2 separate regions of the Homo sapiens genome follow, and region 2 is linked to region 1. The links come from fine-mapping of genetic effects on gene expression. A gene starts in region 1. The other region holds a variant in brackets. All regions are shown on one strand. Distances are from middle to middle.

Evidence for each region.
Region 2: its variant is fine-mapped to the expression of ZBTB4 in whole blood (TOPMed, PIP 0.99).

Annotation. Positions count from the first base shown.
Region 1 is chr17:7,474,847-7,483,172 of GRCh38, forward strand. It overlaps ZBTB4 (zinc finger and BTB domain containing 4), which reads right to left and starts at 4,785. Exons shown (of 4, transcript NM_001128833.2): 1 at 4,610-4,785. SLC35G6 (solute carrier family 35 member G6) reads left to right here and starts at 6,600. Exons shown (of 2, transcript NM_001102614.2): 1 at 6,600-6,673; 2 at 7,142-8,326. The coding sequence starts at 6,671. The coding sequence ends at 8,155. RefSeq lists silencers at 4,092-4,141, 4,402-4,861, 4,882-5,141.
Region 2 is chr17:7,524,897-7,533,222 of GRCh38, forward strand. No RefSeq gene overlaps it. Among named protein-coding and RNA genes, the nearest start is that of TNFSF12, 20 kb to the right of the region's middle. The variant A/G (reference allele first, on the strand shown) is at 3,443.

The DNA.
Region 1 (8,326 bases):
ACTAAAAATACAAAAATTAGCTGGGTGTGGTGGTGCACGCTTGTAACCCCAGCTACTCAGGTGGCTGAGGCAGGAGAATTGCTTGAACCGGGGAGGTGGCGGTTGCAGCGAGCAGAGATTGCGCCACTGCATTCCAGCCTGGGCGACAGAGTGAGACTCTGCCTCAAAAAAAAAAAAAAAAAAAAAAAAGGCCAGGTATGGCCAACTCACGCCTGTAATCCCAGCACTTTGGGAGGCCAAGGCAGGTGGATCACCTGAGGTCAGGGATTGACCACCTGCCTAGCCAACATGGTGAGACCAGCCTGGCCAACATGGTGAAACTTGGTCTCTACTGAAAATAAAAAATTAGCTGGGCGTAGTGGCGGGCGCCTGTAACCCCAGCTACCCGGGAGGCTGAGGCAGGAGAATCACCTGAACCCGGAAGGCGGAGGTTGCAGTGAGCCAAGATCATGCCATTGCATTCCAGCCTGGGTAACAAGAGAGAAATTCCGTCTCAAAAAAAAATTAAAAGAAACCATAAATAAGTTGACCACTCTGGAGTCCTCACAATTTGCCTCATACTCTTCTTGGGGCCTCACACACATTACCTCATTTAATGATATTCTCAGTACAGCCACCCACAATAGGTTTTATATTATCCTGTTGCCCAGGCTGGAGCGCAGTGGCGTGATCTCGGCTCACTGCAACCTCCGTCTCCTGGGTTCAAGCAATTCTCCTGCCTCAGCCTCCAGAGTAGCTGGGATTCCACGCCCAGCTAGTTTTTTTATTTTTAGTAGAGACAGGGTTTCTCCATGTTGGCCAGGCTGGTCTTGAACTCCTGACCTCAGGTGATCCACCTGCCTTGGCTTCCCAAAGTTCTGGGATTACAGGCATGGGCCACTGCGCCCGGCCATATTATTCTAATTTTACAGAAGAGGAAACCGAGGCTCAGAGAGGGATATACCTTACTCGAGGTCGCACAGCTTGTAAGCAGCAGTCAAGATTCGAATCCAGGCCCAGCTGACCCCAGATGCTCAATCTTTCCCTCTGCCATACTGCTAGACCTGGCCCTGAAGAGGCCTATGGCCCGCCAGCTGGTTACATAAACCACCGCACAAGGTCTCACGTGCTAAGTGCTAAATGTGTCATGTCTGACTCCACCCTTTCCCTCACTTCCACATCCAGCAGTCATCAAGTGTGGCTGAAATCGCCGCCGAGCTTGGGAATGGCTCTGGAAATCTTCCCTTCGATAGCTCAGGTCCTTGTTAACACTCACGTGGTCCAAGGTTATGGCCTCCCAGCTATCCCCTGGCCTCCAGGCTTACCTTCCTCCATCCAGCCCTCCTCCCCCTGAGGGTCAACGTCCCTAACCACAGTTCAGGACTATCACTCCTGGGCTCAAAACCTCCACTGGTCCCCACTGACTCTAGAAGAAAGTTCAAATTCTTCTACCAGGCAGTCAAGGGCTCTGGTCTAGCTCCAATCTTCCTTTTTAATCTTGCCTTGTGTTATCCTCTTCAAACACACAGTACTCAGCGTGAGCCAGGCGTGATGGCAGATACCCATAGTCCCAGCTACTCAGGAGGCTGCAGCTAGAGGATTGCTTGAGCCCAGGAGTTTGAGTCCAGCCTGGGCAATATATTGAGACCCAGTTTCTAAACAAATGAACAAAACCCCAGACACCCAGTGTGCTCTCCAGCTTCTACATGACCCACACCTTCATGCCTTTGCCTGTGCTGGCTTGTTCTGCCAGAAATGCTCTTTCCCCAAGCTTGTCAAAATCCCTCCAAAACGTTAAGATCTGACTCCAAGGCCACCTCCTTCTTGGCCCTCCCTGATCCACAGGATGAGAACGATCATTCCTTCCTCTGACTCATCAACCTTTTGTGCTCCTATGGCCAGCATCCACCTTACACAGCAGCAGAGACTCAGGTTCTCATGCCCTCAGCTGGGGATCCCTGAGCATCCGGGTCTTCTGAAATGGACTGCTGCAAATGCTAAGTTCTGCAGCAACTGGGGAGAAGAGTGTTGGAGGGAGTTGCACAGAAAGGACCATCCACTGAATGTTCCAGAAGGCAGCAGAGTACAGTAGTTAAGAGCACAAGATCTTCAACCTGATTGCCCGGGTTCAAATACAGCTTCACCTCTTACTAGCTAAGTGACTTGGGGCAGATTACTTAACTTCTCTGGACCTCAGCTGCCTCACTTGAAAAAGGGAGGTAGAGTGCCTACTTCAGGGTGTTGTTCTGAGGACAGAGTGGCCACATATAAGTGCCCTGAGGACAGGCTGGTGCACGGTCAGTGCTAAGCAAGTGTGTGCTGCCATTATTATCAGCGAAGCCCCAAGAAGGGAATTCCCAGTCCTGGGGGAGGGCTGACAGGGGCTGGCATAGGCACAGCCCCCAGACTATAGCCACTTTCCGGGTCCGTTTCCCATGTGCTTTTGGAAGATACGCAGGGCAGACAATCAGCCCCATTCTGCAGATGAGGAACTGAGCTTCCTTCAGATCAAGTGCCAGTGAGGGAATGGTAAAGACGCCAGAGCTCCTCAGCCCTGGACCATGGCTCCTTTCTCTTCACCAGACCGTCACTGTGCACCTGTTGAGCAGGCTCCCACGGCAGCCACCCCTTCCCAGCCCCCCATGCCGGAGGGCCTGTCCGCAGCACCCTCCCTTCCCCCACGTACACACATCCTTCCAGTGGGGCCGGGCACAGTAGACAGTGGTGTGCAGGCTTGGAATGCACTTGCACACACACCCCTAGAAGGGCCCAGTCCCCAAAGGTGAGGAAAACCTGTTCTGAGGAATCTGCCTAGTGAGCGAATTCTGTTCTGAGGCCCTTCCACCGTCGCAGGAGTGGGGCCCAGTGTGCGTCAGAGATACCCACAAGGGGGGCAGAGAGAGGGAGAGGGTGAAGCAGGAGGAGGCTGAAAACTTCACGTTTCTTTTTTCCATTTTAGTGACAAGAGTCACACCCAGCCTTTACATAAACATGGCCAAGGAGCCTCTCTGTCTAAGCTTACTTCCCTTGTGGCCGCCCAGCCTCTCCTCCGGGTGACCCTGACACGCTGGGCAGGCTCATGAGGGGCAAACATACAGACCCTGCAAAGATTAGCTGGGCCATCTGACAACACCCATGCCTCCCGCCGGCCTCCATGCGCTACCCTGCATTTATCTCCCGCCTTCCTCATACCAAATCCCCTCCGCAGCCCCACCGCCACTTAAGCACACAGACGGCAGGCACGCACACACAGCCTGCTTGCGGCTGGCCTCTTGGGTCTGAGGCCCACACTGCCCTTGTCACGCCACCTCCCTCCCCACATGTGTTTTCTGACCAGTTTGCCTCCCAGCTCAGCAGCCCAGACAGGCTCCTACAAACAACGTCACAAAAGAATCCTGTGGAGAATGTTGCAAACACACAACCTTCCCCTCGCTTGGCTGCCCATGATCCCATAAACACAACTGGCGCATTCCACCTCGAGCCCCTCACACCAGTGCCAACTGACCCACAGGCCCCTGAGACATACCCCGGGGTTCCTCGCTCCTCTCATGATCTTTGGGATCTGAGTTCTAGACGCGCAGCCCCCATGCAACGCGCTCATCACAGACACGCAAACCCATCCATCGCCCTCTTCACCACTGGACCACACCTCAGCAGGGCCACAGAAATGGGACCCAGACGTGACGCCTTCTGACTCAAAGGCCCACAACCGCCCCCTCCAAAAGGGCACATACACTGCATCCTGGCACCCTCCGCAACACATACAGCATGCCAGCTCTGCAGAAAACAGTTCATAAACAGGTCATAGGTGCAGCACAAGACACACATGCGAGAAAACACATGCTGTAGAAAACATACAGCCCCACATCGAACAAACTCTGCACCCAGCATGCTGTGCCCTGCTCAGAATACCCATCTGTCACCCAAAGCCACAGGGCTCGTCTTGTAACTCTGCCCCACAACACTGGACACCCTTCCTGGCTTTCTATCTCCATGGCCCAGGGAGGGCCCTACCCAGACCCCTGGCTGCCAGCAAACGGTGGTGCCCAGGAGAGGTTTACCTTGCCCCACCACACAGCACAAGACACACGATCTCCAAGACTCACAGCCACAACCCTGCCCCGACGGCGCGGCGGTTCCGGGGCCCCAGCTCGCCCTGCGCACCCCGCACACCCCAACTCTGGGGCGCTCGGCGGCCCACCCCTCCCCCTCTCTGCCTGGCTCCTACGCCATCACCCTCCCAGCAGCTTGCAGCGCTTGCCCGGGCTCACACCCGCCCCACCCCACCCCCAATCTGCCCCACGGGGGGAGGGGGCCATTAGGCTGCAGAATTAACCCTTCAAAGAGGGAGTGAGCACCTCCCCTTCCACGGCCCCAGGCGATCGCGTCCCACGGCCGCCCCTCGCTCGGACGCCATACCAGGGCCCCCTTAGTCGCCCCCCAGCGTCGTGCGCGCCCGGGGGCGGGGCCAGGCTCAGCCCCCGACCCCTGCGCCCCCAGGTCAACCCCAAAGGAGAGCGGTCTGGGCGCGGGGCGCGGTCGGGGCTCCCGCAGCGCCGGGCAGCGGAGAGGGGGCCTGGCAGTTGGCTCCGGTCCGCCCTGGCCCTGCCCAGTTCGCCCCAGGGCCCACCTGACTGCGATGGCGCCGCGTCCGCCAGGCCCGGCTCATCACCGTGGCCGCCCCCGGCCGCTCCGGTTTTGCCCGCCTCCAGCTCCGGCTCCGGCTCCAGCTCCGGCCCTGGCCCCCCCAGCGCCTGGCCCCGGCCCGGCCCCGCTGCCGCCGCCGCCGCCGCCGCTGACATCATCGGCTCCCCCCGCCCCGGTCCTACCCCCACCCCCACCCCCGGAAACAGTCCCCCCCCAGCGCCGCCGCCGCCGCCGCCGAGAGGAGGCCGGCGCAGCGCAGCCGACACCGACACAAAGCTCCGAGCGCCCGACGGCCTTCCCCAGGACTGACCCCCGCGGCATGACACTGCGCCGCGCTGGGCCACCGGGCGGGTGGACACCGAGCGGGGCGCGGGCCGGGCTGCAGCATCCCGGCAGGGGCGCAAGACCACCGACCCCCAGGGAAAGGGCTCCCTCCGCCCTTCCTCCTGCACGCCCTTCACTCAGCGGTGCACACTGCCTGAAAGCATAACACACAGGCTCTCAGGGTGCAGACATGACATGGCAGACTCATAATCAGGCCCGGTGGGACTCACAGACCCAGGGTCGGCACACTCAAAGAGGGCCAGCCCTGGACACACACACACACCCTCTCCAGGAATGCGCAGGAAAGCTCAGCAGGCCGCGGAAAAAGAAGGCCCTGGCCCTGCATACGGGGCACACACGAACGACCACCAGCGCAAATGAACACATGAAGCTGGCTGGGTACTTTGTCCCCACCAGCAGATAGATCCACATCTGTATACTTGAACATAAATGCAGAGGCCTTGGTGTCGGCCTCTGGGGACAGCATCAACAAAACACCAGGTGGAAGCACACACAGAAAAAACACATTCCTGAAACTCCACAGGGACAATCCCAAGAACTCCTCCCTGGTGCTGGAAAATTAAAAACTAAGGAGATGGAGGAGCCAGGGTTCACAGCTCCTTGCCTTAAAACCTCTCTGAGGCTGGGCGCGGTGGCTCACGCCTGTAATCCCAGCACTTTGGGAGGCCGAGGTGGGCGGATCACGAGGTCAGGAGATCGAGACCATCCTGGCTAACACGGTGAAACCCTGTCTCTACTAAAAATACAAAAAAATTAGCCGGGCGTGGTGGCGGGCGCCTGTGGTCCCAGCTACTCGGGAGGCTGAGGCAGGAGAATGGCGTGAACCTGGGAGGCGGAGCTTGCAGTGAGCCGAGATCTCGCCACTGCACTCCAGCCTGGGCGACAGAGACAGACTCCGTCTCAAAAAAAAAACAACAACAAAAAAACCTCTCTGAAACCATGCAAGATATAAATAAACAAATTAATGTAAAGCCACAGAGCTAGCCATAAAAAGAATAAAAGAATCAGACAAACTTTGGAGTCATGGAGACATAAATAGAAAAGAAGCAGAGTTGGGCTGGGCACGGTGGCTCATGCCTGTAATTCCACCACTTTGGGAGGCGGGGGGTGGTGGGGTGGATCACTTGAGGTAAGGAGTTCAAGACCAGCATGGCCAACATGGAGAAACCCCATCTCTACGAAAAATAAAAAATTAGCGGGGTGTGGTGGCACATGCCTGTAATCCCAGGTACTTGGGAGGATGAGGTAGGAGAATTGCTTGAACCCAGGAGGTGGAGGTTGCGGTGAGCCGAGATTGCACGCACCACTGCACTCCAGCCTGGGCAAGAAGAGCAAAACTCCGTCCCAAAAAAAAAAAAAAAAATTAGCCAGGTGTAGTGGCACATTCTTGTAATCCCAGCTACTTGGGAGGCTGAGGCAGGAGAATCGCTTGAATCTGGGAGGTGGAGGTTGCAGTGAGATGAGATCACACCATTGCACTCCAGCCTGGATAACAAGAGTGGAAACTTCGTCGCAAACAAAAAAAGAAAGAAAGAAAGAAAAGAAGCAGAGTTGGACTCAGCGGGAAAATAGGCGTGCTACCACCTCAGGAGAGTTCCAGGGAAGAACCCCACCCCCACTCCAACCATGTCACAATGGCTGGAGCTCTGAGGGGCCCAGGCTCCCTGAGCCAGGAGGAGAGGAGAAAGTCCAAGGAAAGATGGTGAGTGTGGGGGCCAGGGGCCTAGTACTCCCTCCCTATAGCTCCTGGTTGCTCCATTTCCCCTCCTTTCCTAAAACTTAGCTGTCTCAGAGATACCCACAAATAGAATTCATAATGGTGTACCCAGATGTCTCTGGAACCTGTGGCATCATACAGATGCATAGCATCTGAGGCTTCCTCCCCTTCCTCAATCCGAGAGAGCATCCTGGGTCCTTTTTCTCCTCCCAGGAACAACTTACCCAGGGAAACGATGCTCCAGGACTGCTCACTCCTTGCTTCCTGCTCCAGGCCCACATTATAACATCTCACTCATCTTTTAGGCCCTTTCTAGCTCCGAAGAGTTCCTCAGCAAGATAGCCCAACACTGTACAGTCCCACAGGGTCCCAGACCCCATCCTGGCATCTGCCCTGCCCCAGGTCGCCTGGGCTGCGGCTGCTGTCTACCCTGAGCTCCTTTCTCCCTAACAGGCTGGCAGTCACCCCTACTTGAACCCGCCTGACTCCACACACCCATCGCCGCCCTCCGCTCCACCCAGCCTCCGCTGGCACCAGTGCTGCCAGCCCTCTGATGCCACCAATGGCCTGCTGGTGGCCCTGCTGGGTGGGGGCCTGCCTGCTGGCTTCGTGGGCCCCCTTTCTCATATGGCTTACCAGGCTTCCAACCTGCCCTCGCTGGAGCTGCTCATCTGTCGATGCCTCTTCCACCTCCCTATTGCCCTGCTACTTAAACTGCGTGGCGACCCCCTTCTGGGACCTCCTGACATCCGAGGCCGGGCCTACTTCTATGCCCTGCTCAACGTCCTCAGCATTGGATGTGCCTACAGTGCGGTTCAGGTGGTGCCCGCTGGCAACGCTGCCACTGTTCGCAAAGGTTCTTCCACCGTCTGCTCCGCCGTCCTCACCCTCTGCCTTGAGAGCCAGGGTCTCAGTGGCTACGACTGGTGTGGACTGTTGGGCAGCATCCTAGGACTAATCATCATTGTGGGACCTGGACTCTGGACACTACAGGAGGGGATCACGGGTGTCTACACCGCCCTGGGCTATGGGCAGGCTTTCGTGGGAGGACTGGCGCTGTCCCTGGGGCTTCTGGTCTATCGTTCTCTGCACTTTCCCTCCTGCCTCCCAACAGTGGCCTTCCTATCTGGCTTGGTGGGGCTGCTGGGCTCTGTGCCAGGCCTCTTTGTGCTGCAGCCCCCCGTGTTGCCCAGTGATCTCCCGAGTTGGAGTTGTGTGGGGGCAGTGGGGATCCTCGCCTTGGTCTCCTTCACATGTGTGAGCTATGCGGTCACCAAGGCCCACCCTGCCCTGGTGTGCGCTGTCCTGCATTCCGAGGTGGTGGTGGCCCTTATACTGCAGTATTATATGCTCCATGAGACTGTGGCACCTTCTGACATCGTGGGGGCAGGGGTTGTGCTGGGCAGCATTGCCATCATCACAGCCTGGAACCTCAGCTGTGAGAGGGAAGGGAAGGTGGAGGAGTGAGATAGAACTTGGGAGCCCGGGGGTTGGGAGGGACAGGGATAAATAGAGGCAAAGACTGAAGACAAACATGGGAGGAGAAGTGACTGGAAAAGAACTGGTGTGGGAGAGGGATACCTCTCAGAGTCAAGGGTGACTTGGGGACTTGGTGGAGAGGGACTACCTGGAAGACCT
Region 2 (8,326 bases), 50 kb after region 1:
GGCTAAGGCAGGAGAATCGCTTGAACCTGGGAGGTGGAGGTTGCGGTGAGCTGAGATTGCTCCACTGCACTCCAGCCTGCCAGCCTGGAGTGCAGCGACAAGAGTGAAACTCCGTCTCAAAAAAAAAAAAAAAAAGAAAAAGAAAAAGAAAGAAAGGGGCACAGACTGAAGATGAATGGCTACTCATCTAGAAAGAGGGGAACAGGTCTGTCCCTGGTTCCTTTCCCTTCCTAGCAAATACCCAGAGTACGTGAGGGAGAGAAAGTGAGGTGTCACTCCTTCTCTCTTCTGTCCTTGTATCCCGGAGTCCCAGCAACCATGACAGGTTCCCACCCATGGGTGTCAAAGTGGTTTTCACTCATATTAACAGGGGGTTCTAGGGGGTGGGAGTATTTACTCTTACCCACATATGCCCTATCTCCCCTGCTGTCAGTAGCTTTTAAATTCCCTAGACCTCATTTATGCCACAGATACTAGCATGATCTTTATCCATGGAACGGGAAGCTTGGCTTAATCAGCAGGAATTAATTATGCTCACCTGCACTGTGCCTTTTAACTTCCATTATCACCTGCCTCTGGATCCCTCAGATCCAGTTTTCTTTCTAGGGCTTTGACCTGAAGCTTGAAATTGAGTTTGGGACAAAAATGTTTTTTGGGGGGTTGTGTGGACTCCTTATCATAAGCTGAATGCTAGGGTGAAGATGTGGGATTGAGTCTTCCTCCAACAAAGGAGAGAAAAAGATGTCTTGTGACATGGCCAGATAACTGGTGGCTATAGTTATGCTTCCTGGGATTTGGGTGCATGAGGCTTGGCTTTTGTTAGCTCCCTTGGTCTTACTTTCCCACAGAGGAAACCTCTGGGTTATGGGCACTGTATTTATTCCCATCACCTGGAAGGATTTGCAGGATAATTGCTCAGAACTAGAATATTGATCCAGATTTTTACATTACCCATCCCTCTTGTTGTTTCTGAGCTGCAGCCAGAGATCCCTGGTTGGTTTACAGGAATAAGCAGGGTTAGTTTAAAATGTAGGCAAAACTTAGAAACAACTAATGAGTCTAAACTTTAATGACAAATATATAAGTTTTGAAATATAATTTCTCTCTATATATTTTTTTAATCTTTTTTTTTTTTTTTTTTTTTTGAGATGGAGTTTCACTCTTGTTACCCAGGTTGGAGTGCAATGGCACAATCTTGCCTACCAGGTTCAAGCGATTCTCCTGTCTCAGCCTCCCATGTAGCTGGGATTACAGGCATGCGCTACCATGCCCAGCTAATTTTGTATTTTTAGTAGAGGCAGCATTTTTCCATGTTGGTCAGGCTGGTCTTGAACTCCCGACCTCAGGCAATCCACCCACCTCGGCCTCCCAAAGTGCTGGGATTACAGGTGTGAGCCCCCACGCTCAGCTTCACTCCCTCCCCTCTTTCCATCTCCCCTCTTTCTCCCCTCACCTCCCCTTCCCTCCCCTCCCCTCTCCTCTCCTCTCCTTCTTCCTTACAGAGTATTGCTCTGTTACCCAGGCTGGAGTGCAGTGGCACAATTTTGGCTCACCACAACCTCCACCTCCTCGGTTCAAGAGATTCTCGTTCCTCAGCCTCCCGAGTAGCTGGGACTACAGGCGCACACCACCACACCTGGCTAATTTTTAATATTTTCAGTAGAGACGGGGTTTCACCATGTTGGCCAGGCTGGTCTTGAACTCCTGATACCAGGTGATCCACCCACTTTGGCCTCCCAAAGTGGTGGGTTTACAGGCATGAGCCACCATGCCCAGCCTTCTAGTCCTCATTTCTGTTAAAAACAAATCAAGTTAGAACTCAGTTGTTTGCAAAATCGACTTTAATCTTATACTTGGCCTGATTATTTGCATAAAGTGCAGCAAAAATAATTATTTCTACATAGGCCTTTTAGATTGACTTTGATGGAACTCTGTTCCACAAGGAATTTCAGATAAGACCTTTTAAAGCTCAGGCCAGCCATGAGTTTGTATCCTCAAATACCTGTGAGTTGGGTAAACTCCTCTCTTCTTGAGGTCCCAAGAGCATGTGTTTTCTGGGCCTGTTGGAAAGTGACATTCTTTACTCATTGCAGGTTAGGAACCCTGTATGGAGACTGTGTAGACAAGGGCATGAAGCCAGTTTTACCAAAGGACTTTTATTGGCTCTGCAAGTTGAGATTGACTCCTTAAAGGGAAGCATACCATTCCAGTCAAAGCCTTGGTAAAACAACCAGTTTCTCCAATTGCATCCTGTTGCAAAAGAAAATGGATTCTTACTGCACTGATACAAACAACTATATTGTCATAAGTTATGAATACTCATAGATAGTTTCTAAATTCTAGAGGAACCAGGCAGAGAGAAACAAACATGCTCCAAATTTTGTTCACAGGAGTATACCCTACTCAATTTTTTTTTTTTTTGAGACGGAGTCTCGCTTTGTGGCCCAGGTGGGAGTGCAGTGGCGTGATCTCAGCTCACTGCAAGCTCCGCCTCCCGGGTTCATGCCATTCTCCTGCCTCAGCCTCCCGAGTAGCTGGGACTACAGGCGCCTGCCACCACACCCTGATAATTTTTTGTATTTTTAGTAGAGACACGGTTTCACCGTGTTAGCCAGGATGGTCTCGATCTCCTGACCTCGTGATCCACCCGCCTTGGCCTCCCAAAGTGCTGGGACTACAGGCGTGAGCCACCGCGCCTGGCCACCCTACTCAATTATTAAAGGCTGTAAATAATTCCTAATAATTTTCCTCGACTCTGAAAAATGAAACAAGGATCAGCAATGTTCCAAGCAAAAGTCCAGAAGATTACTTCAGTTTTCTATTAGTTCAGTCCATTCAGTTAACTCTTGTTTTGCTTGATATTCATGAACATTTCAGCTCTTCATGAGTCCTGTACATTTTTCCTGTGTGCCAATGTCACAATCTCCAAAGTTATCAGAAACTGATATTTGAGCATACTTGTCAGAGTCCTATAGCTTATTTTTTTTTTTAATTTTGCTTTAAGTTCTTGGATACATGTGCAGAACATGCAGGTTTGTTACATAGGTATACATGTGCCATGGTGGTTTGCTACACCTATCAACCTGTCATCTAGGTTTTTTGTTTTTTGTTGTGTGTGTGTGTGTGTGTGTGTGTGTGTGAGAGAGAGAGAGAGAGAGAGACGGAATTTCGCTCTTGTTGCCCATGCTGGAGTGCAATGGCATGTGATCTTGGCTCACCACAAGCTCCACCTCCCGGGTTCAAGTGATTCTCCTGCCTCAGCCTCCCAAGTAGCTGGGATTCCAGGCATGTGCCACCATACCCGGCTAATTTTGTACTTTTAGTAGAGACGGGGTTTCTCCATGTTGGTCAGCCTGGTCATGAACTCCTGACCTCAGGTGATCTGCTCGCCTCGGCCCCCCAAAGTGCAGGGATTACAGGCGTGAGCCACCGTACCCAGCCT[A/G]TCATCTAGGTTTTAAGCCCCACATGCATTAGGTATTTGTCCTAATGCTCTCCCTCCCCTTGTCCCCCACTCCCTGACAGGCCTTAGTGTGTGATGTTCCCCTCCCTGTGTCCATGTGTTCTCATTGTTCAACTCTCACTTATGAGTAAGAACATGTGGTGTTTGGTTTTCTGTTCCTGTGTTAGTTTGCTGACAATGATGGTTTCCAGCTTCATCCATGTCCCTGGAGAGGACATGAACCCATTCTTTTTATGGCTGCAGAGTCCTGTAGCTTATGAAAAGGATCAAAACAAGACAACAATTGTCTGTGAATAACAAAATGTCCAGGGTAGTTACAGTTAGAAACACAATTGACAAAGAACTTTGGTTATCTCTGTGGTTTACAATAACTTAACAACCTTAATTATGACTGATAGCATATACTTTAGACATTAGAATTTTAGAAATCCCACACAATTTTGGAACATACATTAGTATTATTCACCAGAATATAACCTAAAGAAGATTGGACACCATTTTGGCAATCCCATGTAACTAAACTTGTCAAATAATTCTGTTTACCTCTCTTTTGGATACTGCAGGGGCCCTCTGTAGCATCCAAAAGCCAGCCATCAGGAAAGGCAATTTTGTAATGGAAGTTTAATTTCTGGAAGCCTGTTAAATATGTTAGAGGTTTAAAACACTTGATGTTATGAAATAGAATTCCAAATTACCACAAGTTATTTATTTTGCTAAAATGACTCAGAAATTTAAAAGAGCAAAAACCTTTTATAACCCTTTACAAATTTTGTTAAAGAGCAGATTAGTGCCTTATGAGTGTCTTGTTGTGCTTTTATTTCAATGCTCAACTTACAGAAAAACCATATAACACCCTTTTGAATTTAGTCAATATGTTCATACTTCACACATAGAATTTCTGGGTTTTTTTGTTTCGTTTTGTTTTGTTTTGTTTTGTTTGGAGACAGTCTCACTCTGTCGCCCAGGCTGGAGTGCGGTGGTGTGATCTCAGCTCACTGCAACCTCCACCTTCTGGGTTCAAGCAATCCTCCCACCTCAGCCTCTCGAGTAGCTGGGATTACAGGCGTGCACCACCACACCCGGATAATTTTTGTATTTTAGTAGAGATGGGGTTTTGCCATGTTGGCCAGACTGGTCTCGAACTCCTGACCTCAGGTGATCTGCCTGCCTCAGTCTCCCAAATTGCTGGGATTACAGGCATGAGCCACTGCACCCAGCCAATTTTAATTTTTATTAATTAATTATTATTATTATTATTATTTTGAGACAGAGTCTCATTATGTTGACCAGGCTGTTCTCAAACTCCTGGGCTCAAGTGATCCTCCTGCCTCAACCTCCCAAAGTGCTGGGATTGTAGGCATGAGCCACTGTGCCTAGTCTTCATTACTTCTTGAAGCATGGTTTCCTTAGTTATTTGAACATATTTATAATAAGTGCTTTGAAATCTTTTCCATTAAATCAAATGTCTGGGCTCTCTCACGGGCAGTTTTTGTTGCCTACTTTTTTGCTCCTGTGTATATGTCACGCTTTCTTTTTTCTTTGCAAATCTTAATAATTTTTTTGGCCTAAAACTGGATATGTAAAATAATATATTAGGCTGGGCATGGTGGCTCACACCTGTAATCCCAGCACTTTGGGAGGCCACGGTGGACAGATCACCTGAGGTCAGGAGTTAAAAACCAGCCTGGCCAACAAGGGGAAACCTCATCTCTACTAAAAATACAAAAATTATCCAGGCGTGGTGGCGCACCTGTAATCCCAGCTACTCGGGAAGCTGAGGCAAGAGAATCACTGAAATCCAGGAGGCTGAGGTTGCAGTGAGCTGAGATTGCATCACTGCACTCCAACTTGGGCAACAGAGTGAGACTTCATCTCAAAATAATGATAATAATATATTAGCAACTCTAATTCCTCTTTCCTCTCTGTAGGGCTTGTTTCTGTTGTTTTTTGCTTGTTTGCTTAGTGACTTGACTAGATTATTTTAGTGAAGTCTATTTCCCCCATATTGTGAAGTCTTTGGTGTCATTCTTCAGAAGATGTAGCCTTGAGTGTACCTGTAGTCACAGTAAGATAATAGTGGTTTTAGCAGGGCTCTCTTTGTCTCTTTCCCCACACCCAGCTGTTAAGCTCCACTAACTGCAAGCTGATTGCTCTATTATTTTTGACAATGTCCTGAGGCATAAATTCCTCCACAGTCTGATTCAATTAATTTCTGGCAGGGATGGTTTTTGAGGCAAGTCTTTGAGTTTTGTTCTGACCTCAAGAGTGCTCTTCTTAGGATCTTTCCCCTATTTTATATCTTTAAATATAAAAGGCACTGGCTTTTAATATTTAACTTAACCACTCAATCAGTTAAGTTCCCTCTGGTGATCTAGCTGGCTTATGGCTTAACTTGTTGCTCTTAAGAGAAACTAGAGTTGACCCTTGAAGAACCAGTGTCTCTAAGGATTAGAGACACTGACCCCTCTGCAGAGTCAAAACCGCATGTATACTTTTTTATTCCCTCTCCCCCGCCCCGCAAAAAAAAAAAAAAAAAAAAAAAGCAGAATGAAAAAAACAAAGAACTGGGTGCGGTGGCTCCTGCTTGTAATCCCAGCACTTTGGGAGGGCAAGGTGGGTGGATCACGAGGTCAGGAGTTCCAGACCAGCCTGGCCAACATAGTGAAACCCTGTCTCTACTAAAAATACAAAAATTAGCCAGGCATGGTGGCGCATGCCTGTAGTCCCACTTACTCGGGAGGCTGAAGCACGAGAATTGCTTGAACCCAGGAGGCAGAGGTTGTGGTGAGCTGAGATCACGCCACTGCACTCTAGCCTGGGCAACAGAGTGAGACCCCTTTTCAAAAAAAAAAAAAGCAAACAAAACACAAACAAACAAAGAAAAAGGCTGTGCGTGGTGGCCCGTGCCTATAATCCCAGCACTTTGGGAGGCTGAGGCAGGTGCACTGCCTGATCTCAGGAGTTTGAGTCCAGCCTGGGCAACAAGGCACGACTCCGTCTCTATGAAAATACAAAATTAGCTCAGCATGGTGGCATGCACCTGTGGTCCCAACTACTCAGGAGACTGAGGCAGGAAGATTGCTTGAGCCAAGGAGGTCAAGGCTGCAGTGAGCCATGTTTCCATTGCTGCACTCCAGCCTGGGTGACAGAGTGAGACCCTGTCTCTCTTTTTTTTTTTTTTTTTGAGATGGCGTTTCACTCTTATTGCCCAGGCTAGAGTGCAATGGCACGATCTTGGGTCACCACAACCTCGGCCTCCCGGGTTCAAGTGATTCTCCTGCCTCAGCCTCCCAAGTAGCTGGAATTAGAGGCATGCGTCACAATGCCTGGCTAATTTTGTACTTTTAATAGAGGCAGGGTTTCTCCGTGTTGGTCAGGCTGGTCTTAAACTCCTGACCTCAGGTGATCTACCCGCCTCAGCTTCCCAAAGTGCTGGGATTACAGGTGTGAGCCACCGCGCCCGGTGAGACCCTATCTCAATTTTAAAAAAGCAAAGAAAAAGAAAAAAAATTTTTGACTCCCCAAAAACTTAACTACTAATAGCTTCCTATTGACTGGAAGCCTTACGAATTACATAGTAGAAGACTAACATGTATTTTTTATGTTTTATATATATACTATATTGTTAAAATTAAGTAAGCTAGAGAAAAGAAAATGCTATTAAGAAAATCATGGGGTAGGCATGGTAGTTCATGCCTGTAATCCCAACACTTTGGGAGGTCAAGGTTGGAGGATCGCTCAAGCCCAGGAGTTAGAGACCAGCCTAGGCAACATAGCAAGACCCCATCTCTATAAATAATTTAAAAATTTGCCAGGCATGGTGTCATGCGCCTGTAGTCCCAGCTACTCTGAAGGCTGAAGCAGGAGGACCACTTGAGTCCAGGAGTTCAAGGCTGCAGTAGGATATGTTGGTGCCACCAAGCTCCAGCCTGTGTGACAGATAAAATCATAAGGGCTGGGCGTGGTGGTACTGTGGCAGGCCAGGTCTTACTAATGCAGGCCTCCATAGCAACTGTTTCAGTACTGATTGAGTAGTTAAGTTAAATATTAAAAGCCAGTGCCTTTATACAAAGGCTGGAACGTAAGAAAAGCCCACCAAGAGTTTTGCCTAGGCCTTTCCTGGGCCTTAAAGCATGACAAAATAACGAAGGAATTCTTAACAAGACCCATTTAGGATTCAATAAATTTTACTGTGGGTCTGAAGAAACTCTCCAGGCCTCCACAAACAAGTTTACTGGGGGTCTGAAGGAACTCCCCAAACCTCCATGATTTAGCAGGAAACAAGATAAGGGTAATCACCCCAGCACCTGGACCCATTTAGATTAAGTAAATTTACTGAGGCTCCAGAGGAAGGTCTTCAGGACTCAGACCTTAGTTATAGATTAAAAGAAGTTAACCAGCTCGGCACAGTGGCTCATGCCTGTAATCCCAGCACTTTGGGAGGCTGAGATGGGCGAATCATTTGAGGTCAGGAGTTCGAGACCAGCCTGACCAACATGGCAAAACCCCGTCTCTACTAAAAATACAAAACAAATTAGCTGGGCATGGTGGCACATGCCTGTAGTCCCAGCTGCTCGGGAGGCTGAGGCAGGAGAATTCCTTGAACCCAGGAGGTGGAGGTTGCAGTGAGCCAAGATCGTGCCACTGCACTCCAGCCTGGGCGACAGAGTGAAACTGTGTCTCAAAAAATATATATATAAAGAAGTTAATCACGTATGTCTTTAGAGGAATGCACACTTACACATAGACATATAGCTCAGAAGGTATATAAGCTCTGGAAAACTTTATAATTTTGAGTTTGTCTGGTGATAATTTCCAGACCATCTCCCTGTAACCGGTTGCACAAATAAAAACTCTATTCCTCCC